Homo sapiens: one gene and its partners. The protein of the gene in region 3 purifies or fractionates together with the protein of the main gene of each other region. This does not show direct contact. Each region holds a gene or a part of one and is shown on either strand. Other genes may lie near its edges.

The links.
Region 1: the proteins of SLCO1B1 (region 3) and ARF3 purify together in Homo sapiens (affinity purification with mass spectrometry; one large-scale study listed by BioGRID and IntAct). This does not show direct contact.
Region 2: the proteins of SLCO1B1 (region 3) and CTSB purify together in Homo sapiens (affinity purification with mass spectrometry; one large-scale study listed by BioGRID and IntAct). This does not show direct contact.
Region 4: the proteins of SLCO1B1 (region 3) and ATP11C purify together in Homo sapiens (affinity purification with mass spectrometry; one large-scale study listed by BioGRID and IntAct). This does not show direct contact.

The regions. Positions count from the first base shown.
Region 1 is NC_000012.12:48,940,392-48,948,322, forward strand, and holds part of ARF3 (ADP-ribosylation factor 3), read right to left. Parts: intron 798-7,931; 5' UTR 705-797; coding exon 557-704; intron 1-556.
Region 2 is NC_000008.11:11,855,220-11,861,587, reverse strand, and holds part of CTSB (cathepsin B isoform 1 preproprotein), read left to right. Parts: intron 1-108; exon of another isoform or gene 109-227; intron 228-3,647; exon of another isoform or gene 3,648-3,730; intron 3,731-6,368. UniProt on the Homo sapiens protein: Thiol protease which is believed to participate in intracellular degradation and turnover of proteins. Cleaves matrix extracellular phosphoglycoprotein MEPE. Involved in the solubilization of cross-linked TG/thyroglobulin in the thyroid follicle lumen.
Region 3 is NC_000012.12:21,127,705-21,136,343, reverse strand, and holds the start of SLCO1B1 (solute carrier organic anion transporter family member 1B1), read right to left. Parts: upstream 5,151-8,639; 5' UTR 5,108-5,150; intron 1-5,107. UniProt on the Homo sapiens protein: Mediates the Na(+)-independent uptake of organic anions.
Region 4 is NC_000023.11:139,799,165-139,807,095, reverse strand, and holds part of ATP11C (phospholipid-transporting ATPase IG), read left to right. Parts: intron 1-2,496; coding exon 2,497-2,625; intron 2,626-4,756; coding exon 4,757-4,860; intron 4,861-6,985; coding exon 6,986-7,036; intron 7,037-7,931. UniProt on the Homo sapiens protein: Catalytic component of a P4-ATPase flippase complex which catalyzes the hydrolysis of ATP coupled to the transport of aminophospholipids, phosphatidylserines (PS) and phosphatidylethanolamines (PE), from the outer to the inner leaflet of the plasma membrane.

The DNA of each region.
Region 1 (7,931 bases), about 28 Mb from region 3:
CCCTCCTACAAAATGACTCAGCCCTGCTCTGGTACTTTGGCTACCAGAGTCGGCCTCAGCTAAGATGTGGGGCCTGAGAGGCAGAGTGAAGAAAGGGAAGTAAGCTGGCATCCTGGAGCCCCAAAGGCAGAGCCAGCTGACAATGCTGACTGGAGCCCCCATCTACATAGCAAATGTAGGGAGACCTCCCTTCAGCAAACTGTAACCAAGATTGGCCACCAAAGATCTAAACCCAAGTAATTCCAAGCCTTTGGCAGGAACATCAAAGCCTTTTACCTGCTTTCCAAACAACACAGAGAAGAAACCAACTCCGTGCCTGAGGGCAGCTGTTGAGTGCCAGGCCATGGAAGTTCCCGCATCAGGGAGAGCCAGGTTAGGTGGGCAAACAGCAGCCTCAGCACCTGGTAGTAAGCTAAACAACACCACCCTCTTTTCTGAACCCCACAAATTGTATGGACTTGCCTGGGGAGAAGAGGCCAGGTTGGGGAACCAGGAATAGGTCCCTGCCCTGCCTCAGCTGCCGGCGTGAAAGCCCACATCCAAGCTGTGCTCTTACCAATGGTAGGGATGGTGGTGACGATCTCCCCGAGTTTCAGCTTGTATAGGATGGTGGTCTTTCCTGCGGCATCCAGGCCCACCATCAGGATGCGCATCTCCTTCTTCCCAATCAGGCTCTTGAGAAGGTTTCCAAAGATATTGCCCATGATCACAGCAGCTGCTTTCTGGGGACAGTGGGGCCCAAGTAGGGGCAGTGGCAGTCTGGTTTTGGCCTGGTCCCTGGTATGGAAGACTTGATCCTAGACAAAGGAAATGTAAAATCATACCATCATTTGCTTGTCAGGACTTCCAAGTAAATAGAATTTCCCAAGGTCATGGCTAGAGTTCATTCATGACAAACGGAGAGCCTGAGGGGACTATAAATACCAAGGCCCACTCAGATACATACTGAGTCTTTGGGAACAGAGACAAAGCAGTAAACACTAAGGATCCCTGCTCTGCCAGTAATCTAACCATGTGACTCTGGGCAAGTTACTTCACTTTTCCATATCTGCACCTGTAAATGGAAGGGGGATTGAACTAGATGATTTCTGAAGTCCCTTCAGTTCTGACATTCTACCCTATACCCAAAGGCATTGTAAGATCATTAATGCCCCTCCCTCCCCTAACCTTACTTACCCTGAGACTTCTGGCAAGGGTGGGAGAGGAGGGAGCGGAATAAGGAGTGGCTCTCTGTGACTCCTGACAAGGTTCAGGCTTGCCAGTTTCCCAAGGTTTATGCTTTCTCCTTTAATCAAGAGACTCTGCCTCTTCCCTTCCTATATTTTTGCAACTCCATCTTTCTTCCACACCAAAATAAAGGAGGAATAAGAAAGCCGCACTCTTAAAAGAAGCCGATCCTTTACACTCTGTGGAATGCCAGCTGCTAATGTTGTGCCCTGTTCAAACAACAGTGCACTGGCAGTAGAGAGGTGGGGTATGGCGGGGCTACCCCTTTACTCCTCAGCTAGGTGCATCCTTGGCTTACTGTGGCCCATCCAAGGAGGGGGCTGTCCCACATGGTCGCTGCAATGAGGCAGTCATCTCATTGGTTCTCTGCTTCTTCCCTAAGCCTTTCGGCCTATTCTCCATATAGCATCTAGGGTGGTTTTAAAACCAAACTCAGGTCATATGAGTCCTTTGTTCAAAACCCACTCGTGGCTTCATAGCTCCTTTTCAGTAAAACCCAAGGCCCAAACCATGGCTTACAAGGTCCTACAAGACCTACACTCCCCTACTTCTCTCATGAGATCTACTACTCTCTCTTTGCTTACTCCACTCCAATTCCCCAACACTTTCCTTTCCTGCCTCAAAGCTTTTTTTTTTTTTTTTTAAAGAGGCGAGGTCTTACCGTGTTGCCCAGGCTGGTCCCAAACTCCTGGGTTCAAGCAATCCTCCTGCCTTAGCCTCCCAGGGCACTGGGATTACAAGCATGAGCCACCATGCCTGGCCCAAAGCTTTCATATTTGCTATCACCTCTGCCTGGAATGCTTCTCTTCCAGATAACCATCATAGATTACTCCTTCACCTCCTTCAGTTAGTTGTCTGTTTCAATGTCACCTACCAAAGAGGCCTCCCACAACCACATGTATAACACACACACACAGACACACACCACTCCCTACCCCATTTATCCCACTTTACTTTTCTTCACAACATTTATCACCATCTGATACATTATATATTTATTTCTTGCTGATTGTTTTATTCTGCCTAAGATATCAGCTCCTTATGTGTTTTGTTCACTGCTCTGTCTCCAGTACCAAGAATAGTGCCTAGCACACAGTACTTCAAAAACTGAACTAATCCCCAGGGTCTCTACTGACTTTACTGAAAGCTCACTCAGACTGGATGCTATGCCTGGCATATGGTAGGCACATAACAAATACCTGCTGAGGCCGAGCGCAGTGGCTCACGCCTGTAATCCCAGCACTTTGGGAGGCCCAGGCGGGTGGATCACCTGAGGTCAGGAGTTTGAGAACAGCCTAGCCAACATGGTAAAACCCCATCTCTACTAAAAATACAAAAACTAGCCGGGCATGGTGGCACACTCCTGTAGTCCCAGCTACTCGGAACGTTGAGGCAGGAGAATCACTTGAACCTGGAAGGTGGAGGTTGCAGTGAGCCGAGATCACGCCACTGCGCTCCAGCCTGGGTGACAGGGCGAGAATCCATCTCAAAATAATAATAATAATAGTAATAACAACAACAAATACCTGCTGAAAGGATGAACAGGACCAAAAGAATCATTATGAAGGTATAAAATGTCTATCTGCTCACCCCAGCCATTGCCCCAACAGACAGAATCAGATTCATTCATTCATTCCCTTTCTTCTTCCCTCTCTTCTCTATGGCACAGGATAGCCACAGAAATGCATCTTTGAAACAATAATAAAATGAGGATTCAGAATCACCCATACAAACCAGTTCTCTGTGCCTGCAGGAGGCATGTGTCAGCGGGCAGCTTATTCAGCAATCACCATATGCCAGCTGCTGGCATTCTCTAGAGTCTGGGAACCAGAGACACACACACACCCCAAACTCAGCAGCCAAAGGGACAGGTCAAGACAAAGTGCGCCCAAACCCAAGAATGTGAAAGGTGGACGGGGAGGAATCCTATTTACAAGCTAACGCATGGGGGTTTGGTGGGAGTTTGGTTGTTTTTACAAAAACTTCTGACATTTCCCCCACCACCCTTCTCAGTTTGCAGCAAATTCCAGACTAGTGCAACTGAGCCAGATCAACAGTCCCTGAAGACCAAAGTACTAGTTTGTCCGAAAAAACAGAAACAATGAGTGCTTATGAAGTGTTTCATCTTCAAAAGGCCTCCCCAGACAGCCACTAATGAGCCAGGCGTGGCACTCTCAGTAGGTTCCCCAGATGAGCCCTACCCCTGACCTAGAGGGTTCACACACCAGGAAGAAGGGCTAGCTCAACCTTAGGGTTCAACTTCAGTCAAGCCACCCGCTAGCCTTCCTCCCTACTCTTCCTGCCTCAACCCACCCAGGTGGACAGACTCCTGAGGACCCCTGAGCGACCTACCCAGCTAAGAACAGCTCTCACCAACCTTGGCAATTTGTAGTAGTGACTTTTGGTCATACTACTAACACCTCATGAAATTTAAACCTTTCCCAAGTCTTCCTAGTCTTCTAGCCTTTATTCTGCCTCTTGCTCAGGCAGCCTTTCCTTCAGCTCCAGATGACACTTTGCTTTAAAGGTTTGGTATCAGGCTTTGGCCCAGATTCTGAATTAAATTTATGCCACACATTTATCTTGCTGTCCTTTATGACTGAAACTATTGCTGATTAAATGCTTACCAACTGTGAGTATAGTGGTGGCTGAAAAAGATATAACTAGCCAATATGCCTTGCCCCAGAACACAGGTACACTGTCCTTTGATTTGCTTCTTTGCTCGGCTGTCATGCTGAAGTCCTGGTTCAAAAGCTGATCCCAGTGTTACACCTATTATTTCCTGGCATGCCACATCAAGGCCTTACTTTGAATGACCTTAACCACTCAATGTGGCACTTACTACCTTGTCGAGTTTTTCTTCTTTTATAAGTCTGTGTATTTACTGCTTCCCACGTTAAGCTGTGTATTCCCTATGTGCAAAGACTATGTCTACTTATTTTGAATCTGTCCTCCCTCTAGTGCCAAGTAGATTGTGGGAGTTCAATTAAGCACATTGGCTGATTTAAGCCTCATCTGAGGATGTCCTTATATTATTTCTTCTGTCCAGTAGGATTTGGTATCTCTGTGTAATGCACAGCGAGTTGCTTAGCTATCCTGTCCATTCTCAGCCATTTTCCACACATATTTGACGCAGGACTGGTTTGGGAACAACATAAAAGGACTAGAAGACTAGAATTGGTGGGATTCTCTCTTGCCATTTAATATACAGTGGGACTGATGAATAACTGATAAAATATCTAAATAGCTGGCCAGGCATGGTGGCTCATGCCTGTAATCCCAGCACTTTGGGAGGCTGAGGTGGGCGTATCACCTGAGGCTGGGAGTTTGACACCAGCCTGGCCAACATGGTGAAGCCCCATCTCTATTAAAAATATAAAAATTAGCTGGGCATGGTGGTGCGCGCCTGTACTCAGGAAGCCGAGGCAGGAGAACCGCTGGAATCCAGGAGGCAGAGGTTACAGTGAGCTGAGATCATGCCGCTGGCACTCCAGCCTGGTTGACAGAGGAAGACTCTGTCTTAAAAAAAAAAAAAAAAAAAAAAGGCCGGGCACAGTGGCTCACGCCTGTAATCCCAGCACTTTGGGAGGCTGAGGTGGGTGGATCACCTGAGGTCAGGAGTTCGAGACCAGCCTGGCCAACATGGTGAAACCCCGTCTCTATTAAAAACCCAAAAATTGGCCGGGTGCGGTGGCTCACACCTGTAATCCCAGCACTCTGGGAGGCCAAGGCGGGCGGAACACGAGGTCAGGAGATCGAGACCATCCTGGCTAATACAGTGAAACCCTGTCTCTGCTAAAAATACAAAAAAATTAGCCGGGTGTGGTGGCTACTCGGGAGGCTGAGGCAGGAGAATTGCTGGAACCTGGGAGGTGGAGGTTGCAGCGAGTCGATATCATGCCATCACACTCCAGCCCGGGCAGACAACAGCAAGACTCTGTCTCAAAAAAAAAAATTAGCTGGGCGTGGTGGTACATGCTTGTAGCACCAGCTACTCCAGAGGCTCAGGCAGGAGAATCGCTTGAACCCAGGAAGCAGAGGTTGCAGTGAGCCGAGATCACGCCACTGCACTCCAGCCTGTGTAACACTGAGACTCCATCTCAAAAAATAAATATCCAGTAGCTATCATGTATCTCCCTGGCACAGCCCAGGACCTTGAAACTAATGGATGTTATGACTCCTCCTCTTTATTTATTTATTTTTTTTGAGACAGTCTCGCTCTGTCACCCAGGCTGGAGTGCAGAGGCAGAGGTTGCTCACTGCAACTTCTGCCTCCCAAGTTCAAGTGATTCTTGTGCCTCAGCCTCCCGAGTAGCTGGGATTACAGGCATGTGCCACCATGCCTTGCTAATTTTTATATTTTTAGTAGAGACGGGGTTTTGCCATGCTGGCCAGGCTGGTCTCAAACTCCTGGCCTCAAGCAATCCACCTGCCTTGGCCTCCTGAAGTGCTGGGATTACAGGCACGACCCACCACGTCTGGCCATGACTTTTCTTTAAGTATAATCTGGAGCTTGACTTAAATGAGCATTTCAAAGGGGATGCTGGCTTTCTTGTCTTGGTTTTCCCTGTCCCTTGCTAATACCAGAGAGCATGCTGCCCTACCACCAAGATGGTAGCAGCTTTCTGCTTTGTGCCATGAATACAAATCTCTGGCTATACAGCCTATTCTCACTTTCACAATACATTCCTAAAAAAGCACTAGGAAGCAGAATGGCAAAGCAAACAAACCATGAATTGTTTCTCCATGTATTATATAGCCTATAGTTACTCTCTTTCACCACAGATGGTACTCCTGTGTTTATAGGGCAAAATGCCAGGGTTCCATTGGCTGTTGGATACCAAGAATAAGCAGTTAAGACTGAAAGTGAGTGGCTCAAGATGAAAAATGGAATATACTAACATCTCTGTTAAAAAGATATCTGCAGGTTCTGTTTTACAGTCAGAAACTTTATTATCACAGGTAAAAATAACAATAGGAACCCAAATATGTGCTCTAGTACAATCTGTGTGGGACACTGTAGGAATTCAGTTAAGCACATCAGTTGATTTAAGCCTCATCTAAGGATATCCTCACTTGAGGACAACTCACTGCTCCCACCTCATCCCCCCAGGAGAAGCAGGCTGTTGCTGTAACTGGCTACTCAGCCATCTTTCCTTACATATGTTGCAGGAACGTGCCTGCCTCAATCTCCAGGTGCTTTTGAGAGTCACACATCCCAGTCGGCCACACATACTCCCTCTACCTGATTCCAGTGAATGATCCAAGAATGTGCTATGAGACACCTCTGAGGGGACTCCTGATCTGGCACTACCTCCTCCTCTTCAGCGTCCAGGGGAAGGAAGACCAGGGTCTCCCAAACCCTCTGCTGCCAGGCAGAGTGCAGTAAAAACAGCTTTGTTCTTAGATAATTTTCAAATTGAAATATCACTAAGAGATGCTATTTTTAGCACAGCTAACCAAACAGACCAATACAATTTAAAGAAACAAAAGCAGAGTACGCCCGTACTGAGTTTTCTTGGTGCAGCTGGCTCGTGACCTGTGTAAACTCCAAGTTTTTGTCTCAAGAGCACTGAAATCAGAACATAAGAACTCCTAGATGATATCTGAACTATTTCGACTAGACTTAAAGATTTCCCAAAGTTAAGAAATAGCTTCTGATACCAGCTTTCATCCATTCATCAAACTTTTTTTTTTTTTTTTTTTTTGAGACAATCTCGCTCTCTCGCCCAGGCTGGGGTGCAGTGGCGCAATCTCGGCTCACTGCAACCTCCGCCTCCCAAGTTCAAGCGATTCTCCTGCCTCAGCCTCCCGAGTAGATGGGACTACAGGCGCATGCCACCACACCTGGCTAATTTTTTGCATTTTTAGTAGAGACAGGATTTCACCATGTTAACCAGGATGGTCTTGATCTCCTGACCTTGTGATCTGCCCACCTCTGCCCCCCAAAGTGCTGGGATTACAGGCGTGGGCCACCGTGCCTGGCCTCATTCATCAAACATTTATTGGGCATACTGAACTAGGGATACAGAGAGGGAGACAGTTTCTGCCTTCATGAAACTCAGTCTTTAATGGAAAAGACTAGTGAAGACAGGACTACAAAACAGTGTGAGAGTAAGAGTAAAGCACATAGTATTATGTGAACAGAAAGCTGGAGCAGTAAATCAACACTGAAGGGTAAAGGGTGATTCTGAAACCTAATTCTCAGGTCATACCTGAGCTGGCTCCTAAAGGAAGACGAGGAAGTAATCAGACAATAAAGAGGGAGTTGGGCAGGGGAAGTGTGTGCAAAGGCATAAAGACTGAGCCAGGCACAGCAGGACACACCTGTAATCCCAGCACTTTGGGAGGCTGATGCAAGAAGATTGCCTGAGGCCAGGAGTTCAAGGCCAGCCTGGGCAACATGGCAAAAGCCCATCGCTACAAAAAAAAAAAAAAAAGCTGGGTGTGGTGGTGCACGCCTGTAGTCCCAACTACTCAGGAGGCTGAGACAAGAGAATCACCTGAGCCCAGGAAGTTGTGGCTGCAGTGAGCCATGATCACGCCACTGCACTCCAGCCCAGGTGACAGAGTGAGAGAATATGTCTCAAAAAAAAGAAAAAGAAAAAAAGACCTAAGTTTCAGATAGCACTTTAAAAAAATTTATATAATCTTTTTTTTTTTTTTAAAGAGATGAGGTCTCACTCTGTCACCCAGGCTCACTG
Region 2 (6,368 bases), on a different chromosome or scaffold from region 3:
AACTGCTGAGGGCCTTCGTAGTGTCTGCTGTTTCAAGTGTACAGTAGTCATTTTGTCTGCAGGATGTGGGGTTGCTGTGGCTGACCTTGTACAATATTCCACTCATAGGTGTCTTCAGGCCTATGGAGAGCAGCTTGCGTGGGCTGGGCCTGCAGTACCTGGTTTGCATAGATGATTGGCAGGTGGGCAGCACGGGGAAGGACCTGTGAGTGGCCAACCTGGTTCAGGTGAGGGAGGTGGAGTGGGGCTTCTCTGCTTCCCCTGGTTCCCTGGAAGCCTCCAAGGCTGGTGAGCATCACTGCTGCCTCTGCACACCTGTGTGCTGGGTGGGTTTTCTGACAGGTTTTCAGTTGCTTCGGGGCTACAGCTGCAGGGAGCCTGCTCCATGGGACAGATGGGCCTCTGGTGCCCGTTCATCAGGGGACTGATGAGACCGAGGCCTGAGAGCCCTTTGGATTTTGTTTTTGTCCTTAATTTAATCATAAGCCAAGAATCTACTAAACACAGTTCCATTAGGGGCAAAGACGTAACACATCAGAGGCCACAGCAAGGCTGTGATTCATACTCAAAAAGGAAAGGTCTCTGGGTCACAACAGAGCATAGTTGAGGTCAGCACACTCCCACCCAGTGCAGGGCTGCTCCAGCATTGAGGTGTGTCTGGCAGGTTGAAGTAGGGGAAGATGAAACTCGCCGAAGTCTTGTTTTGTGGTTGCACTTAAGTGGTCAAAACTTCAGGAGCAACTGCCGTTATTAGCGGTGAGTGCCAAGACTAGTTTTTATAGAAGAGAAAGAAACAAAGTACTCTGGGAAGGTCTTACTGAGCCTTCACAGTCTCCCCACCTTTCCACTGTTCCCGTGCTCTTAGCCGCTCTGCTGGCCTATAAGGCACAGTCTTCATTTGTGGCTTCTGGCAAAATGTAAGCACTTGACTTTTGTTTTTGTTTTGTTTTGTTTTGTTTTTTTGAGACGGAGTTTCCCTCTTGTTGCCCAAGGTGGAGTGCAATGGTGCGATCTCAGCCCACTGCAGCCTCCACCTCCTGGGTTCAAGCAATTGTCCTGCTTCAGCCTCCCGAGTAGTTGGGATTATAGGTGCACAACCACCACGCCTGGCTAATTTTTTGTATTTTTAGTAGAAATGGGATTTCACCATGTTAGCCAGGCTGGTCTCGAACTCCTGACCTCAGGTGATCCACCTCCTTGGCCTCCCAAAGTGCTGGGATTACAGGTGTGTGCCACTGTGCCCGGCCAACTTTCAATTCTTTAGAGCTGACTATGAGAGGAGCCAGCAGTATAGCCACAGCACCAACGAATGAGGAAGAGCAAAATACTGCATGACAGCTTTGCTAAGAATTCTTTCACTTTTTTTGTCTATCAGCCAGGAGCTAGCAACTTGGCTTATTTGGAAATTTTAAGTGTACATATCCTGTCTCCTTAAATCCTTTACAGATTTAAAGTGCAGTCTACCTGAGGGCTCTGTGACCATGTAAGAAAGCTTTTTCTTTCTTTTTTTTTCTCTGAGACAGAGTGTTGCTCTGTCGCCCAGGCTGGAGTGCAGTGGTGTGATCTTGGCTCACTGCAACCTCTGCCTCCTGGGTTCAAGCAATTTTCCTGCCTCAGCTTCCTGAGTAGCTGGGACTACAGGCAGCACCACCATGCCCGGCTGAGTTTTGTATTTTTAGTAGAGACAGGGTTTCACCATGTTGGCCAGGCTGGTCTTGAACTCCTGACCTCGTGATCCGCCTGCCTCAGCCTCCCAAAGTGCTGGGATTACATGCGTGAGCCATTGTGTCCGGCCTTTTTTTTTTTTTTTTTTTTTTTTTGAGACAGAGTCTCGCTCTGTTGCCCAGGCTGGAGTGCAGTGGTGTGACCTCAGCTTACTGCAACCTCCGCTTCCTGGATTCAAGTGATTCTCCTGCCTCAGCCTCCCAAGTAGGTGGGATTACAGGCACCCACCACCGTGCCTGGCTAATTTTTGTATTTTTAGTAGAGACAGGAGTTTCACCTTGTTTAGTAGAGACAGGCTGGTCTCGAACTCCTGACCTCAGGTGATCCGCCTGCCTTGACCTCCCAAAGCGCTGGGATTACAGGCATGAGCCACTGTGCCTGGCCAGAAAGCCTTCTTTATTGAGCTTGGTGGCAGCCCAAAACTGATTCTTTAAGGGTGTCAGGACTTAACACCTCCTGTGACTTAGCCGCACCTCCTCTCCTTTGACTTTCATTCCACCTCCTTCCAGGATCGCAAGGTCCCTATTTGTCCTGGAAACGGCTTCAAGGTAGTCTAGGGTGCCGTTTGCCGGGGGAGGAAGGTGCTCTGGTTGATAGAGTCGCCTGGCCGCACACTCTTTTTGGCACATAACAACGTTCTACAGAGCCGGGGTGGAGCGTGCTTTCTCATAAGTGCTCTGCAGGTTTGGAGAGAGAGGATATGAGGAGCACCCTTTTCTGTTTTTTTTAACCCAAAGATTAGCTTGGAAAAGGGGCAGAGGGGTGCACTGGAACTCAGGTCTGCCTAAGCAGCACAGCAGACCAAGGTCTAGAGATGACATCTGCTCGCAGCTGTTCTTCCACCAGCCCGCATCCTGGAAAGGGGTCTTGTGGCACACAAGAGTTCACATCCTTCCCTCGTGAAATAAGGACTTTGTGTTCATCATCTCTTGTAAGAAGCAGAGCAGAAAGCACAGAATTAAGAAATAAAAGGGAAGTGGGTGCCTATATAAAGGGAAGTGAAAATGGGTTGCTGTCCCATGCAAAGACCCTGGAAAGCTGTTAACAGCTCAGCTTGTCACTTTCACCATCTGCATTTGTCCAGAGTGATTGAGATTTGCGTTGTTGTGGAGAGAAAGGCGCCTGTTGCACAATGGAGTGAGATTGCCACTGCTGTCAGGACCTCTGTGTTTGGCTTGACACTTTTTGAGTTCTCAGCAGTCTCGGGACCCTCAAGAGTGGAAGCATTTTTGGATGTTAAATGCTGGGGTTAATTGAAGTTAAGAGCTTGTTTTACTGGGCATGGTGGCTCACACCTATAATCCCGACACTTTGGGAGGCCAAGGCGGGCAGATCACTTGAGTCCAGGAGTTTGAGACCAGCCTGGGCAACATAGCAAAACCCCATCTCTACAAAAAATACAAAGCTGGGCGTAGTGGTGTATGCCTGTAGTCCCAGCTCCTTAGGAGGCTGAGGGGAGCAGATCTCTTGAGCCCAGGAGGCAGAGTTTGCAGTGAGCCATGATCGTGCCACTGCACTCCAGCCTGGGCAACAGAGTGAGATCCTGTCTTAAAACAAACAAAAAAAACAAACTTGTTTTCATTTAGACTCTTCCTGGCGTTGGGGACCTATTGGAATAGGTTTAGTGTGAACTGAGAGCTAGAAGTGTTAGAGGAGAGAGGGAGGGAACAGAGCCCGCTGGAGCGAGTGCCCTTCCTACCTTATCACTGCATGCCAGGCATGTGCCGGCGCTTTGGTCCTCCTCATTTCATTCTTGACTGCCACCTGAGACACGATGGTTACTAGCTCCATTTTATAGGTGGTGAAACTGAGGCTTGGGGAAGGTCAGACCCCAAGGGTGCCATTTAGTCAGTGGCAGAGCCAGATCCAAATGCAGGTCTCCTGACTCCAAGTGCAGGGCTCATTTTATCGTCCGGTTGCAGCACGCTGGCGGCCCCTTGAGCCCCAACCTGGATACCATAGGGGAGGAGCAGAGAAGCCAGGAACACCACAGCCCTGGGCCAAGGTGCGGGGCTGAAAGAACTTCCCAGCGCTCAGCCTGGGACTAGTGGAATGGGCTGGGCCCTGGGGCTGGCAGCGGTGGCCCCGGGGAGCCTGGGAATGAGTAGGGAGCACAGGGAGGTGTGGGAGGGCCTGGGAACCATGAAAAGGAGGGCGGGTGCAGGGAAGTCGCCTGCTAGTGAAGTGGCGAGGGGGCCCTGTGGGACTCCAGGGAATGGCCACGGCAGGTTGTCCTCCAGGAGTTGAGAGCCACTGGACATGGCAGCTGCCTGTGTTCTCAGCCACCACAGTAACCAAAGAAATCTTGGTTTTAAAATTCAAGTTGCCATGGAAACGCTCCCATCCTCGACTTGGCTTATTATTTAAAATAACATCTCTACAGCACAAAGCCCCCGGGTACATCCAAGGACACTGCTGTCTGCCCACGAGACATGCTAACCTCACAGTGTGGAGGCTGTGTGGGTCACTGACATGCATGGCCACGTGAGACGCTGCCTACCCACGAGTCACGGAAAAGGGGAAGATTATTAAGAAAGTCACTAGGGGCCAGGTCCAGTGGCTCATGCCTGTAATCCTAGCACTTTGGGAAGCTGAGGCAGTTAGATCCCTTGAAGCCAGGAGTTCAAGACCAGCCTGGCCAACATAACGAAACACGGACTATACTACAAAAATTAGCCAAACGTGGTAGCACAGGCCTGTAATCCCAGCTACTCAGGAGGCTGAGGCACAAGAATCACTTGAACCTGGGAGGTAGAGGTTTCAGTGAGCCAAGATTGCGCCACTGTACTCCAGCATGTGCCACAGAGCGAGACTCCCATCTCAAAGTCACTAGGGAGGAAGCCTCATTGGTGGGAAGGAAGACCAAATTGGAAATGCTCTGAGGAATCATTAAAACAAATGTCCTTTTATCAGTTTGGTGGCTCAGGGCCTTTAGTAATACTGCCAACTATTTTTCCTAGAAGAAACAAAACTGAAATAATAGGAACATACTCACTTTTTTTTTTTTCTTAAAAGTAAGGGTATGTTGTGAAAAAAAGTCTCCCCACCGTAGTGACCGACTGCCGTGCATCTTCCTTGGCATTTTGCATGTAGTGGCAGGAGTGTTCCTACATGTGTAGATTGCTGAGAGGGTCAGATGCTTATGGTCCTCAGTCACCCACAGCTTGCTTTTTCCCCACTTAACATTGGGACTTGGGGCATTTTTACTCTGTTAATACAATAGAATTCACTTCAACTAGTTGGTTTTTTACTTTTATTTTATTATTATTATTTTTAGATGAAGTCTCAATCTGTCGTCCAGGCTGGAGTGCAGCCTCTGCCTCCTGGGTTCAAGTGATTCTACTGCCTCAGCCTCCCAAGTAGCTGGGATTACAGGCATGCGCCACCACGCCTGGCTAATTTTTTGTATTTAGTAGATACAGGGTTTCACCACCTTAGTCAGGCTGGTCTCTAACTCCTGACCTCAGGTGATCCAACCGCCTCGGCTACAGGCATGCGCCACCGTGCCCCACCAACTAATTGCTTTTTTAATGGTTGCTTCATATTCTATTTAACCACTTACCGTAATTTAACAGTTACTCTGTTATTGGATACTTGATTCATTTCCAGGACATGCAGATTTAGAAACTGGTGGGCGTTGCTGGTTGATGTCTCGGTGGTTGTGCCCACCCACCCCAGGCACTCATTATCATGCCTTCCGTTTCCCCACTTCCTAAGCCCTGCAAGAAGTGCCAAACTGTCCAGCCCTTGCCAATCTGATACATGCTGAATACCTCCTTGATTTTATCTGCACCTCCCTGAGGTTGAACTTATTTTACTTTATTTTATTTTATTTTTGAGGCAGAGTCTCACTGTCACCCAGGCAGGAATGCAGTGGTGAAATCTTGGCTCACTGCAATCTCCACCTCCTGGGTTCAAGTGAGTTGAAGCAATTCTCCTGTCTCAGCCTCCCAAGTAGCTGCGATTACAGGCACCTGCCACCACACCTGGGTAATTTTTGTATTTTTAGTGGAGACGGGGTTTCACCATGTTGGCCAGGCTGGTCTCAAACTCCTGACCTCAGGCGATCCACCTGCCTCAGCCTCCCAAAGTGCTGAGATTACAAGCTTGAGCCACCATGCCGGTTGAACTTATTTTTATCTGTGTTGGCCATTTGTAGTTTTTCTATTATGCTGGTTCCATTTTTCTGACTTTGAAGAGCCTTTTGTGGAAACGAAGCCTAAAGTATATGTGAGTACTGCTTTGTTTCGTCAGTTTTTGTTTTAAAGAGACTTTTCAGTGTAATGCAAGCATTTTCCCTTGAAGGCTGTGTTTCCTGTCAATCCTAAGCTTTCCTCCAGCATTACCTTTTTAAAAAACTTTATTTTCTATATTGATGGGGTCTCACAATGTTGTCCAGGCTGGTGTTGAACACCTGGCCTCAAGTGATCCACTTGCCTTGGCCTCCCAAAGTACTGGGATTATAGGCATCAGCCACCGCACCCAGCCTGTTTTTCAAAGGGCATTGATTTTTTTCATAAAACTTTTTAAATTAAGATCTGTGGGCCTGGTGCGGTGCCTCACGCCTGTCATCGCAGCACTTTGGGAGGCTGAGTCAGGTGGATCACGAGGTCAGGCGTTCGAGACCAGCCTGGCCAAAATGG
Region 3 (8,639 bases):
GCCACAAAGATACTCCTCGAGAAGAGCAACTCCAAGACACATAATTGTCAGATTCACCAAAGTTGAAATGAAGGAAAAAATATTAAGGGCAGCCAGAGAGAAAGGTTGGGTTACCCACAAAGGGAAGCCCATCAGACTAACAGCTGATCTCTCGGCAGAAACTCTACAAGCCAGAAGAGAGTGGGGACCAATATTCAACATTCTTAAAGAAAAGAATTTTCAACCCAGAATTTCATATCCAGCCAAACGAAGCTTCATAAGTGAAGGAGAAACAAAATCCTTCACAGACAAGCAAATGCTGATTTTGTCACCACCAGGCCTGCCCTAAAAGAGCTCCTGAAGGAAGCACTAAACATGGAAAGGAACAACTGGTACCAGCCACTGCAAAAACATGCCAAATTGTAAAGACCATCAAGGCTAGGAAGAAACTGCATCAACTAATGAGCAAAATAACCAGCTAACATCACAATGACAGGATCAAATTCACACATAACAATATTAACTTTAAATGTAAATGGGCTAAATGCTGCAATTAAAAGACACAGACTGGCAAATTGGATAAAGAGTCAAGACCAATCAGTGCACTGTAGTCAGGAAATCCATCTCACATGCAGAGACACACATAGGCTCAAAATAAAGGGATGGAGGAAGATCTACCAAGCAAATGGAAAACAAAAAAAGGCAGGGGTTGCAATCCTAGTCTCTGATAAAACAGACTTTATACCAACAAAGATCAAAAGAGACAAAGAAGGCCATTACCTAATGGTAAAGGGATCAATTCAACAAGAAGCGCTAACTATCCTAAATATATATGCACCCAATACAGGAGCACCCAGATTCATAAAGCAAGTCCTTAGTGACCTACAAAGAGACTTAGAATTCCACTCAATAATAATGGGAGACTTTAACACCCCACTGTCAACATTAGACAGATCAATGAGACAGAAAGTTAACAAGGATACCCAGGAATTGAACTCAGCTCTGCACCAAGCGGACCTAATAGACATCTACAGAACTCTCCACCCCAAATCAACAGAATATACATTCTTTTCAGCACCACACCACACCTACTCTGAAATTGACCACATAGTTGGAAGTAAAGCTCTCCTCAGCAAATGGAAAAGAACAGAAATTATAACAAACTGTTTCTCAGACCACAGCGCAATCAAACTAGAACTCAGGATTAAGAAACTCACTCAAAACTGCTCAACTGCATGGAAACTGAACAATCTGCTACTGAATGACTACTGGGTACATAATGAAATGAAGGCATAAATAAAGATGTTCTTTGAAACCAATGAGAACAAACACACAACATACGAGAATCTCTGGGACACATTTAAAGCAGTGTGTAGAGGGAAATTTATAGCACTAAATGCCCACAAGAGAAAGCAGGAAAGATCCAAAATTGACACCCCAACATCACAATTAAAAGAACTAGAAAAGCAAGAGCAAACACATTCAAAAGCTAGCAGAAGGCAAGAAATAACTACCATCAGAGCAGAACTGAAGGAAATAGAGACACAAAAAACCCTTCAAAAAATTAATGAATCCAGGAGCTGGTTTTTTGAAAGCATCAACAAAATTGATAGACCACTAGCAAGACTAATAAAGAAGAAAACAGAGAAGAATCAAATAGATGCAATAAAAAATGATAAAGAGGATATAACCACCGATCCCACAGAAATACAAACTACCATCAGAGAATACTATAAACACCTCTAGGCAAATAAACTAGAAAATCTAGCAGAAATGGATAAATTCCTTGACACATACATCCTCCCAAGACTAAACCAGGAAGAAGTTGCATCTCTGAATAGACCAATAACAGGCTCTGAAATTGAGGCAATACTCAATAGCTTACCAACAAAAAAAAGTCCAGGACCAGATGGATTCACAGCCGAATTCTACCAGAGGTACAAGGAGGAACTGGTACCAATACTTCTGAAACTATTCCAATCAATAGAAAAAGAGGGAATCCTCCCTAACTCATTTTATGAGGCCAGCATCATCCTGATACCAAAGCCTGGCAGAGAAACAACAAAAAAAGAGAATTTTAGACCAATATCCTTGATGAACATTGATGCAAAAATCCTCAATAAAATACTGGCAAACCAAATCCAACAGCACATCAAAAAGCTTATCCAACATGACCAAGTGGGATTCATCCCTGGGATGCAAGGCTGGTTCAACATACGCAAATCAATAAATGTAATCCAGCATATAAACAGAACCAAAGACAAAAACTACATGATCATCTCAATAGATGCAGAAAAGGCCTTTGACAAAATTCAACAACCCTTCATGCTAAAAACTCTCAATAAATTAGGTATTGATGGGATGTATCTCAAAATAATAAGAGCTATCTATGACAAACCTGCAGCCAATATGATACTGAATGGGCAAAAACTGGAAGCATTCCCTTTGAAAACGGGCACAAGACAGGGATGCCCTCTCTCACTGCTCCTATTCAACATAATGTTGGAAGTTCTGGCCAGGGCAATCAGGCAGGAGAAGAAAATAAAGGGTATTCAATTAGGAAAAGAGGAAGTCAAATTGTCCCTGTTTGCAGATCACATGATTGTATATCTAGAAAACCCCATCATCTCAGCCCAAAATTTCCTCAAGTTGATAAGCAACTTCAGCAAAGTCTCAGAATACAAAATCAATGTATAAAAATCACAAGCATTCTTATACACCAATAACAGACAAACAGAGAGCCAAATCATGAGTGAACTCCCATTCACAATTGCTTCAAAGAGAATAAAATACCTAGGAATCCAACTTACAAGGGATGTGAAGGACCTCTTCAAGGAGAACTACAAACCACTGCTCAATGAAATAAAAGAGGATACGAACAAATAGAAGAACATTCCATGCTCATGGGCAGGAAGAATCAATATCATGAAAATGGCCATACTGTCCAAGGTAATTTATAGATTCAATGCCATCCCCATCAAGCTACCAATGACTTTCTTCACAGAATTGGAAAAAACTACTTTAAAGTTCATATGGAACCAAAAAAGAGCCCGCATACCAAGTCAATCCTAAGCGAAAAGAACAAAGCTGGAGGCATCACCCTACCTGACTTCAAACTATACTACAAGGCTACAGTAACCAAAACAGCATGGTACTGGTACCAAAACAGAGATATAGACCAATGGAACAGAACAGAGCCCTCAGAAATAGTGCCGCATATCTACAACTATCTGATCTTTGACAAACCTGAGAAAAACAAGCAATGGGGAAAGGATTCCCTATTTAATAAATGATGCTGGGAAAACTGGCAAGCCATATGTAGAAAGCTGAAACTGGATCCCTTCCTTACACCTTACACAAAAATTAATTCAAGATGGATTAAAGACTTAAATGTTAGACCTAAAACCATAAAAACCCTAGAAGAAAACCTAGGCAATACCATTCAGGACATAGGCATGGGCAAGGACTTCATGTCTAAAACACCAAAAGCAATGGCAACAAAAGCCAAAAATGACAAATGAGATATAATTAAACTAAAGAGCTTCTGCACAGCAAAAGAAACTACCATCAGAGTGAACAGGCAACCTACAGAATGGGAGAAAATTTTTGCAACCTACTCATCTGACAAAAGGCTAATACCCAAAATCTACAATGAACTCAAACAAATTTACAAAAGACAAACGACCCCATCAAGAAGTGGGTGAAGGACATGAACAGACACTTCTCAACAGAAGACATTTATGCAGCCAAAAAACACGTGAAAAAATGCTCATCATCACTGGCCATCAGAGAAATGCAAATCAAAACCACAATGAGATACTATCTCACACCAGTTAGAATAGCGATCATTAAAAAGTCAGGAAACAACAGGTGCTGGAGAGGATGTGGAGAAATAGGAACACTTTTACACTGTTGGTGGGACTGTAAACTAGTTCAACCATTGTGGAAGACAGTGTGGCGATTCCTCAGGGATCTAGAACTGGAAATACCATTTGACCCAGCCATCCCATAAGTGGATATATACCCAAGGGATTATAAATCATGCTGCTATAAAGACACATGCACACGTATGTTTATAGCGGCACTATTCACAGTAGCAAAGACTTGGAACCAACCTAAATGTCCAACAACGATAGAGTGGATTAAGAAAATGTGGCACACATACACCATGGAATACTATGCAGCCATAAAAATGATGAGTTTATGTCCTTTGTAGGGACATGGATGAAACTGGAAACCATCATTCTCAACAAACTATCGCAAGGACAAAAAACCAAACACCGCATGTTCTCACTCATAGGTGGGAACTGAACAATGAGAACACATGGACACAGGAAAGGGAACATCACACACCGGGGACTGTTGTGGGGTGGGGGAGAGGGGAGGGATAGCATTAGGAGATATGCCCAATGTTAAATGATGAGTTAATGGGTGCAGCACACCAACATGGCACATGTATACATATGTAACAAACCTGCATGTTGTGCACATGTACCCTAAAACTTAAAGTATAATAATAATGAAATAAAAAAAGAAAAAAACTGTACTGAGAAGACTTTTTGCTTATTTAATTGGAGATAAATTATCTAGAAAATATATTTCCCTTCACCCTGTATCAAACTTGAGTTGAAACAAGGAAACTGAGGTGGTTATGTGACTTTGAGACACCTGTTTTTTATGTTTGCCAATTAACTCTTCCCTCTACTCCCACCCTTGGCTGCCTTCATCCAGTTAAGAAGACATCAAAGAAATAAGGAGTCTAGTGTGATCAGTCAATGTAGTTGACAAAAATAATTATCCTGTAGCATATTTTAAGAAGGTAACTAGAGCTTCATTTTTGAGACTTGATTTTTATTTGTTTGGAAATTAATAAGACCAAGATTTGAAACTTTATATTTAAATATATAAAGGTATTATTTTCTCTACTTTATTTTTAACAGTATATAAACCTGAGGCTCTTCTACTCCCAGAAGGAATATTTACTATGTTTTAAGGGCTCAGAATGTAAGCGTGTGGAAGACACAGAGCATAAAATTCGTAATATTTTTCAAGACCATCAAAATCTTCTTCCGTGAAAATTTCTTACATAAAATATATGTAAAAATTAGAGAATCTCAATGGTTCTTACCTGGATTTAGAATCCTACAGCAACTGCAACAAGTCCACCCTTTATTCCTCTTAAAGTAGTTGGCTTTTTGAAAACAAGTCCAGTGATGATTAACCACCTTATTATGTCATTGCTCTAGTCAAACATATAAAACCTAGTTAGTTTTAAGAGTTCACTCCAGTTGCCAATATTTAAAGATTATATTTCTCAGAATTCTCACATTATTTTTTGTTAATCTTAACAAGTAAACCTTACTTTTGGGAATGGCTTTTACTTGTTTATTCAATTAAGTTGGTGGCATAAGATTTTTTTCTTTAAAAATATGAGTACAATAAATTATTCCAGGTATTTAAAACTTCCAAATAGGAAATAATTTAAGACAAATAAAAAATATGCCTACAGGTTACATTGGCATTTAAAAATTAAAATATACCCTCTTTGCTTGGTACATAAGTATGGTTCTAACGTGGTATGTATGGAGACTGGAGATACCACCTGGAATAAGAGAGTCCCAATTAACTGCAAGACCATTTTTCTGAATGATGAAAATTAAGACTGCTTTATGCGATAGATTCTTTACATCAAAACAGGAAAGAATTATTAATATCACAGTTTCCTTTTATTGACTTGACTTGTGGAGAAAGGAAGAGCTTAACTCAGTTAAAAGTTTTCTTGAGTAGAGATGAAGTTTAATTAATTCAATAACTCAAACATTTTAGACTCTCAATTATACCTTGGACATTAAGCTCTCTTCTGAAATAAAGTACAGACCCTTCTCTCACATAAATATATATATTTCAGAAAAGTGTGAAGATATATGTATGTATATACACACAAACATACATGTATACATATATACACACTTTTACCTGTATACACATATGCACATATATATATGTGGTAATGTGAGGATGCATATATGAGAATATGGTTACCCCTTATCATTCATGGGACATTTGTTGATATGGTTGCAGCAAAATGTATTTGATGTCTGTGCCACAGTTATCTGATTGATTAGTTCTATTCTTGGTTAATTATTGAGAGTATTGGAATCATGAGACAAACTAAAGAGTAGTGTAGAGGGGAAGAATGACTGTGCAGAACTGAGAAATGTAGACCCAAGGCCAAAATATTAGAGTAAGGCTTCCAAATACTCTGCTGAGTAAGAATCTACTGGCGAGTTGTCAAAATAGCAATCCAGTCCCATACCCAGCAGATTCTGGCTCAGGAGACCAAAGATTATGCCTGTTAAATAAGCACTTTGAAAAATTTTCATGTACTGCCAGATTTTGATATCATAACAGGAATGCAGAACATTTTCCATCATTTTTATGGACTTCCTTTTATTCACAATGGGAATACAGTTTGGGTTTTCTCAGGCTAATGGTTTTCTCCTCAGACATCCATTTCATTGAAAACACATCAACATGTTTGGAGACTAATATATATATTATATACAATGAAGATAAAACAGTACAAACTAACTAACAACCTTTATAATCCTGAGCTAAAGGTGCCAGTTGTAAAATTCTCCAATATTTTCAGAGGTCAAAGAGCATTCTCTGTGCCCCTTTTCTCTTCCTAATTGTGTAAATAATTAGACTGCTCATTTTGTGGGATCATGGAAAAACAAGAGTACACCAGGGGAAAGATGTTGCAAAACATCTTTCAAGATCAATATTATGCTAACAGCCACGCATCAGTTAGATGACAAAAATTGATTTAAAGAATCAGCTGATATTTTTTTCAGGAACGGCTATCACAGCTCTGATGAAATATCATGGCCTTTGAAGTCTGAAAGACTTAAATGCCGATATGTCTCTGCTACCTGCCAGCAGTATAAACATCAGTAGGTTATTTACCATTTCTGAGCATCAGTGCACTCATCTATAAAGTAAGAAGTCTATATTTGGAATAAAGATTTAGTGTATGTAAAGTGCCTTACATAATGCCTGGCACATTATAGATTCAACACCTAATTAGATTAATTGTATGATATTTGCATATTATAAATTTTAGAGCAGTTAATTTATATTAAATGAATACAAATAAAATCTCTGAGATCTGTATCCTGTAGATCTGTAAAACCTATGTCCAATAGGTTTTAGCCCCAGAGTTCTCAGGTGTGTACCACAGGCACACCTCAAGAGGGAACCGTCAGGCTCCAAGCAGATCCGCCCTTACCCGAACATTTCACTTCTGTTGGTGCTGATTAAGAGACAGCTCCAGAAAGCTACACTCTCCTGGAAAGAACTCCTATTCTACATATTATTCTCCAAACATGTTTCTATACCCACCAATGATCAAAGCTCTGGCATCATCAAGACTAATATTACCATGGCAATTATCGCTCTTATGGTAGTGACCACCATAAGAAGGTAGGGATTCCCTGATGACTCATCACCTCTTCTCTAATCCCCACAGGGCTCTGCACATTCCTATGTTTGCCCCCATCTTCTCTCTTTCTCCCAATCCTGGACTGAAATTCTTCTCTTGAGTTTTCTGGAACCCATCACTAGTCATGACTGAAACTCCCCTTACCTTTACCTCTTCTCTGAGTTATTCTGCTTCACTTCTGCCTTGAACTTAAAAATTGGTCTTCCCTGAGACACTCCCTCTCCTGCAGCAGTGATACATAGGGGTTGCCTTATCCCCCATATTGCTGCAAACCAGATGGGCTGGTTTCCAATGTGCCTCACTTTGCTAGTTTCTTTACATTTCCCCACCCTTTACACTCATAATCCATAGTTTTGGATCTCATATTGAAAGACTCTATCACTTATTCCTCTTGTTGAAATCATCTATCAACGCTCAGTCACTCCCACTCATTTCATGACAATTTTAGCTCTCGATCCAAAGCCATTCTCTCAAAATGCTACTACTATTTTAATTATTCATGATGGTAATGACCATGAAGAGAATCTTTTTAATTCTCTGTTTTCTTTTTATTTTCTTTTTATTTTTTAGCCTTCTCCTCAATGATCTTGGCTTCTACCTACTGCTATGGGCATATCCTATGCTTTTCACACCACTGTAATCTCTCCATAATATCAAAGATTGGAGCACCACTCTTTATCACTCCTAGCTCACACTCAGTAACACCCTAGATCCACATGCTTCCACTGACCAGGATGTATAACCTACAATTTGATTTTGCCAGAGATTTCGGTGTTCCTTATCTATACATCTGGGTTAATTTAATGGTCACGGTAATCACTCTCTTCTATATAACTTCATATAATTTTGACTGTTTTGCATTATTTTAATTGCATGTCAAAGCCACAATCTTGATTAAATTTAACTCTCAAATAACTCTGCACATTTCCCTTATGAAGCTAAATGTAACTGAGGAAAATCTCTCAACCATGCTGACTTTAAACGTATGATTAGGAAGCCCAAATGGACCTTTCATTTTGCCAAGAAATCATTCACGCCATTTTGCACTCTGAGCATTTTGTGCCTTCATCTTTTTTTTTTTTTTTTGAAATTCTAATACATCCCTTCCCCACCTTCAGCTGATGAATTATTTTACTGAAAAAATAAATAAATAAAG
Region 4 (7,931 bases), on a different chromosome or scaffold from region 3:
CACAATATTAAGCAGGCCATATGCACCAAAGCCTCAGGGTAAGACTTTCTCAATATCCTCCCCCCTCATAGTAACTGAACTTCTACCTTGTATCAGCACCAGGTTATTGGTATGATAGGTTTCCTGTCCAATTCCCTGTAGCAGGTCCCATCCCCTGTAGCAGGTCACTTTTGTTTCTACCTCTCCTCTAACAGTAGTGATGTTTCCCTGAGACTATGCCAGGGAAGGTTTCCTGCCTTTCTCCTAGATGCAGATGACATTTGCTTAATATGAGAAAGGGGTCTATGATTCTGGCATGGTTTTTTTGTGCCTATTTCTTCACAGCAGTCACCACCTGTATGCCCGTGCCAGTGAGAAAGGTTCTTTTAGGTCTCCTGCCTGTATGCTTTCTCATGAACACTCAGTAGAAGCCTCTAGAGAAGAGCTGGTGAATGGTTGTGGTCTCTTCTTGTCTCTCAGGCTTGTAGAGATTCTGAACTGTCATACTAGCTCACACCCAGTCTTTAGGAATTGGTTAAAAATCTAGTTGTTTTCTTCTTACCCACTTTCATGGTAGCCATCTCTTCCTTCTATGCTTGGTCAGTTATGAAACAGTTCATCTGTCCTGTCTCTCCTCAGAAACACTTGTTACCCTTTGAAATTCAGTTCACTTGGTTGCTTTGCAACCTCAGCTCTCTGATGGACTAAAAAATACGTATTTGTTTTTAGATTATCCATTTTTTCCTAATGTTTGTAATGGGAGGTGGTGATGTTCTCTTGTGGCTTTTAAAATGGTAAATAGACCTCTAGAGTTCATTGTCTAACTAGATCATGTTATTCCCTGTCTTTAAAAGTCCTGTACCTATCCTTTTACCTTTAGAGTGAGGCCTAAATCCCTTAGGCTGGCCTGCTAAGCCCTTTGTGATCTGACTCATACCCATCTTGTCAGTCTGAGCTTGCACTGCAGATATAGGGGCCTTTATATTTCATATCTGACTACATCCTAACTGTTGAAAAAATGCTCTCTTTGTGTGTTTTATTTATCAATGCCTGAGAGTCATCTTCCGACCTCTAATGGGTATCTCCTTCTTGTAAGATGTGTTAGGATTCTGTTTGTTATCTCTCTTCTGCATATTTAAGCATAAATTGTGGTTTTGTGTAAGCAACATAAGTGTTTATGTAAGTGAGGAAGGAACAATCCAACAAAATAAAATATTATTTACAAGTTAGTTCAATTATTGATGCTGTTGATCTTGGCTAGTGATTAAGATTGGCAAAGAAAATAAAATTCTTCCTGAATAGGTCTTGAAATCCTCATCTTTATCTGCCGAATCATATTGCAAATAGAAGTTGGGTGTTGCATGTATTACCTAGCATTTCACAGTCAGTGTGTCTAGGTCAGTGTGCCAAATATTGACTCCCTTCTAAAGTGGGTTATCTTCTGCATCCAGCAGCCTCTTCCCTTTACCTGAAGGTGCTGTACAAAAGTATTATTTATAATTTTCAATATGTACCATGGTGTGAAAATCTTGGGAAGGACCAGACTGGAGGATTTCTTATATCTTTCCAAAAAAATGTTATGACTCTTCATAAGTTGGGAGTAAAGTAGTTGCAGGATGTTAGTAATAATTATAATTAACACCTTTGAAGTAGTTAATATGTGCCAGGCACTTTGCTCAGTACTTTTCTTGTATCATCATTTCATGCTCACATTAATTCTCTGAGGTAGTTGCAATCGTCTAAGACACTTATTTAAGGTCATATAGTTAAGTGGCAGAGCTGGGATGAGAAGTCAGGTTAAAGAGTCCAAACTTTTAATGGTTATGATTTACTTAACCCTACATTATTAAATTATTCATGATTTCTTCTCTCAGGTTTTTCCTTTCCTTGAGCTTTGGGTACTTGCTGATAAGAAATTGTTTCTCATTGCTATATTAAGTGATTCTCCTGACAGCAGATGAATTCATAGAAAGTGACCTATAGAAAAAAAAAATTCAAATATTTTGGGAAAAATCAATGCCTCTCTAATTAACTGGGATTTTCTGAGCACTGAAGAAGGACCTGGCACCCAACAACACAGTTGTTACCACATGGCAGGCAAAGTATGTTGAAGTATGCGTGGTACAGAGTGGGAGTGTGGCTGTTCAGTGTTCATGAAGTGCCCAGTTTGTGACATGTTGTAGATTTTCTTGATTCATTCATGAAGTGATAATGTCATTGTCTTATCAAACATTTGTGCAAGAAATATCAGAGAGCAAACGGATGTCAGAATCATTTATTAAAGGTAAAGGTCAGTGCTAAGGTAATCTGAAAGCATCCTAAGTCCTTCTAACCTTAAAGAGGATTCTGAATATTGAGTAATATTCTTTCATCACCTTTCACATGATGTAGGATGCTGAGATACTCTCAAAGCCCCAGAGCTAGAGATAATCTCTTGCTAATGTTTTGACTTTTGTATGAGTGTAATGAATGCTTTGTTTGGAATTTAAAATATTTATATTTATTTCTCAATTCCAGGTTGGTGATGTAGTAGAAGTACAGGCAGATGAAACCTTTCCCTGTGATCTTATTCTTCTATCATCTTGCACCACTGATGGAACCTGTTATGTCACTACAGCCAGTCTTGATGGGGAATCCAATTGCAAGGTAACAGACTAAACCTTGCCTAAACATTTTGATCTCAGGATAGTTAATCATACAATACTGCCTCCCATCACCCTCTAATCTTTTATTTTTTCTTATTTTTATTTTTTCTTAGGTTTTATATTTGAAAAGAGCTGTTATGTAATTGTTTTTTAACTTCTAAGCAAACACTCGTGTTTGGGTAAAAGGGTGGTAATTACGTGTGGAAAAACTGAGCCCCAAGTAAAAGCTACCACAATTTTTATAGCACTGCTTGAATTTAATATTGACACAGCCTATTTAATATTTAGACTCTAAAATGGGAGTAATCATAGGCTTAAACTGTGTGACTATACAAATAACTTCATGTATGCTAACCTTACAATTTGATCTATTTTTTTCTAAAATGTATATTTTCATTAAAAATGTATATTCTTGGGATGTAGGAAACCCAACCTGGAGTAATTTGATTGCTATTTAAAAATAATACTTAGGGCTGGGTGCGGTGGCTCACGCCTGTAATCCTAGCACTTTGGGAGGCTGAGGTAGACGGATCATTTGAGTTCAGCAGTTCGAAACCAGCCTGGCCAACATGGTGAAACCCTGTCTCTACTAAAAATACAAAAAAATTAGCCGGGCATAGTGGTGGGCGCCTGTAATTCCAGCTACTCGGGAGGCTGAGGCAATAGAATTGCTTGAGCCCGGGAGATGGAGGTTGCAGTGAGCCAAGATCACGCCACTGCACTCCAGCCTAGGTGACAGGGTGAGTCTCCATCTCAAAAAAAAAAAAAAAAAAAAAAAAAAAAAAAGATAGGGTGTAGTTTGGAAAATGTTTGCTTTATAAGTAAGTTATAAAGCAACATTTTATGTACATATAACAAATTATAACTCATTTATAATTGCAAGTGACTTAAAGTAAATTTGGCCAAATGGGGGTAACTTATTTCCCTCATACACTTTCTGGCACAGTCGGTTTTCTTGGCCATGGTCCAGAGCTCCACAGGGCATGAAGATGTATCCTCTCTATGCTGCCTTTAAGGAGGGTTACTCATGTGGCTCACCTCTGGGTATGTCCTTGGAGGGCTCCTCTGTTTGTTTATTCCATCTGGAGTTGAGGACTACGACTCAGTATGTAAAAAAGAACCTTTACCTGTTGGATGACTAATTCTGTATTTCAAAAGCATGGTAATGACCTGCTTTTAACCTTTTCAAAAACAAAGTTATAATTTAGGGAATGTCAAGATATAAATCAAGAAATCTACATAAAGATTTCCTGATAGTGAAAAAGTTGTTTGGAGTAAGAAAACTTTCAGATAGTTTCTTTTTTCAGTTAAGTTGTTCTGATCAAATCAGCTAAAAGTACAGAGGTTTTCAAAATCAGGAGATAGTTTTAAATATAGTTCAGACATTGCCGTAATATTTCCCCCAAGATGACGACAACAGCTTTCCCTTCTGCCTAAGTGGTGCGCTCTTTGAGTCTGCTTTAACCCTTGTTTGATGATTTATAAGTGGGTTCATTGGCGCCTGCCTTGAGTTCTGGATGAATCAAGTGCATAATATACACTAGTAGAATATTCTAATTATCTGACTAATGCAAGACACGTCATCTCCCTGCCCCTTGTACAAAATGTATCCATATTGAACATTTTCAAGATCATTAATTAAGCTATTTGTGTAATGGAACTATTAATGATTTTTTTCTTGCTGTTGGCAAAATTTTAGCATTTTTGTGACCAAAAAGGTTATGTTCAATTCATATGTGTATATCTCCATTGCCATACACTATAGTGAGCAAAATAATAAGTCTCAGTTCTGTAAATAGGAAAAAAAATAAATGTATTAACTTTTTCACGTGGTTTTAGTTAATTATATGCATGTTGTGAATAGAATTCTCTCAGCTGTCCATGTCAAGAAGAGCTTTTAGGTTTTTAATTGTCTTTGAAACCCTCCTTGCGGCAGGTTATCTTTCTAATTATTTGTAATATATTTTCATAATAATACCATAAAACTTATTAGTGGGAAATGTTAATATTTGTTTATTCTGCCAAAGCCTCTTACTAAAACATAAACTAAATTTGTTTCTGAAATCAGTTGGGTGTATGATTATGAAAAGAAAGTTTTTTTGGTTTTCACTTTTTCTTCTGCTTTCAACTAGACACATTATGCAGTACGTGATACCATTGCACTGTGTACAGCAGAATCCATCGATACCCTCCGAGCAGCAATTGAATGTGAACAGCCTCAACCTGACCTCTACAAGTAAGAATCACCTGGTTTCATTTTACTTCTGTTTGTTGGCTCTGCTTCTCTTTGCTAATAGTATTGCAAAAGAAACACCCACCACTTACCAGCCTACTCTCATTTGTGTTTTTATGGGCGATTCCTTCCTTCTGGCAGAAAAATGAATCAAATCAGCCTTGTTCACTATCAACCCAGAATAAATCATTGTGGGCCCAGGTATCTTATGATTTTTCTTTTATTTTTATTACTTGTAAACATGGCCATATATCAAAATTTTAGATTATGTTACCCTGTAAGGCTGATCTATCAGACTGATGCAGTAACCAGTTAATTAAATAAAAAACAAATCCTTTTACATGCCATCTAACATTAAAGAGAGAAGGGGGATATCCTCTTCATGCAATTAGTAGGTTCTATCCTTTCTTAGAATGATCATGATGCACTAAAGATTGCAAATAGGCTCTTTCTTGTCCACAGTAAACAGTTAAGGGATGAGTACAATGGTGTAATTTCCTCTATTTTACTATACTTAGGCTCTCTGGAGTAGGTTTGCTGATTATTAGTCATTGTGGGTTGTCAAAAATTGGCGTTTGATTTCAAGACTGGTTAGTTGGGTTGATTAGAGCATAGTACTAATCAGGGTAGTGTAACAGGTTTTATCCCCACGTGGGCTAATTAATTTTATCCTATTCTACCGTTGCAGATGGCATCCATTACCCATCTTGTTAATGCATGCTGTTAGTCATAATGAGTGACCAAGTGGTTGGATGTGGTTTACACTAACACCTAGTAGTGGAAAAACAAAGTATTCATTCTACTTCAAGAACAATGACCTCCCTCCTTCTCATCACTTTTTCTTTCCTCTTTCCCTTCCTCTTCCGTATCCACCTTGATGATAGGAACTAGGGCCAAAAAGTGTAACAGTTATTCTCTACCTTCAAGGGACTCACTGTGAGCAAGAGATGAAGTAATAAAGCTAAGCTTATACAAGGTGATAATAGAGGTGAGTGTAAGGTCTATGGAATCACAGAAAAGGGAGTAACTTATTCTGCCTGAGCTAGAGAACAATATCTATACCCTTGCATATTTATAGGGAAATCCCCACATTTTTCAGTTGCTTTAAGTATGAAGGAGAATGATAGGACAGGGAAGGTTATTCCTTATTTCCTTAGACGATTGAATTCCTTGCTGTGTGACTTCGGAATACCTTGTACTTCTATCACTCTAGTGGTAAGCACTTGCGTCGTAATTGCCTATTTACTTTTATAGGGCAAGGAGCCATTTCTTTTTTGCTTATTAGTACATCTTCAGCACTTAGTATAGCACTGGCACAATTAATATATGATGAATGAATGAGCAAGCCTTCATATTTTGTGTATATGAGTAATATATATTTCTATTTTCTGGGGAAAATGCTGTTTACGATGCAGATTATAAAACACTGATGTTAACGAGGGATTAGGTATTTTTACCTTATTTTGCAGAAATACAGGTTACCATACACCTATTATATTAAGTGATTGGGTCAAGCTCAGTATTGAGATCAACTACAAGTCACAGGCTGGACATTTCCAAGATGGCATTCAAGTGTTCACTGTCTAAGACTAGTACTATGGTTTAAAGAGTGGTTTCAGGACCAGCAGCAGCAGCATTACTGGGGAACCTGAATCAGAAGCTCAGGGATGGGACCTAGAAATCTGTGGTTTAATTAGCGCTCCAGTGATTCTGATGCACACTCAAGTGTAAGAACTACTGAACTAGCGGTTTTGAAAATTGTATTTTAGCACCAGAAACCTTTCTTCACATGATCCAAGATAGAAGTTACGTTATTTATATAAACTTATAAAAGAGAGAGGTGTTGTGTGCATGCATGATGTTAAACAGAACTTGAAAATCAATTGAGAACCTTTGTTTCTGCTCCTATAATCCCATCATGTTATTTAAAAATTATATGAAAATGTTATACACCTTATCAATTCAACATAACTTTTTTTCCCCCAGAAATATAATAGGCTTTTGTAGTTCATTCACAGTTTTATCTATCTCTGTTTTATTATTTGTATTTTCATTCATTCTCATATTTCTGGTACATGGATTTCACCTGGATGTAGAAAACACATTTGCAATTTTGTTCTTTTTACAGATTTGTTGGGCGAATCAATATCTACAGTAATAGTCTTGAGGCTGTTGCCAGGTAAGTTTGCTGTTTCTTTAATTTGTCCTTTGGTTGGGGGGGGGGGTCTATTTTTCTGTTAAATCAACTAAAATAGCCAAATACCTTTCTATTATAGAAAGGAATATAGGCCGGGTGCGGTAGCTCACGCCTGTAATCCCAGCACTTTGGGAGGCTGAGGTGGGTGGATCACCTGAGGTCAGGAGTTTGAAGCCAGCCTGGCCAACGGGGTGAAACCCAATCTCTATTAAAAATACAAATTTAGCTGGGCGTGGTGGCACACATCTGTAATCCCAACTACTCAGGAGGCTGAGGCAGGAGAATCTCTTGAACCCGGGAGGCGAAGGTCGCAGTGAGCCAAGATTGAGCCATTGCACTGTACCCTGGGCAACAAGAGCAAGACTCCATCTCAAAAAAAAAAAAAAAAAAAAAAAAAGGAATATAAAGGTGAATAAGCAACTAACCTTGTGATTGGTAGAGTTGTGGTGATAGGGTCTCTGTGTTGTGGGGAGGGGGCTGTTAGAAGTAATGCTTATGGTTTCCAAAATAGCAGAGCTCCAGACATTTTGGATTATATTCCCAAACCTGTTCTAGCCATGTTATTTATTATCCTCGGTTGTGAAGTGGCTGACAACATTGGAATTATAACTGGAGAACAGTGGGAGAGTAATTGAGAAAGTAAGCAGTGGGTAAAATGCTGGAAGAACTACCTGGACTTACGTAAAATGAAAGGCTTCATTAAAACGAATTGTTTTATGTATACGAATTGTATGTATCAGCCTTCATACAATTTATCAAGCAGTTCATACAAAAAGGGATGCTTTCTTTCCTCTTCTATCATCATATTAATTACCGCAACTTTTCCACTTGGCCTTTACAGCCACACTCAAAAAGTTAAAGAAATACAGGGTCCCCA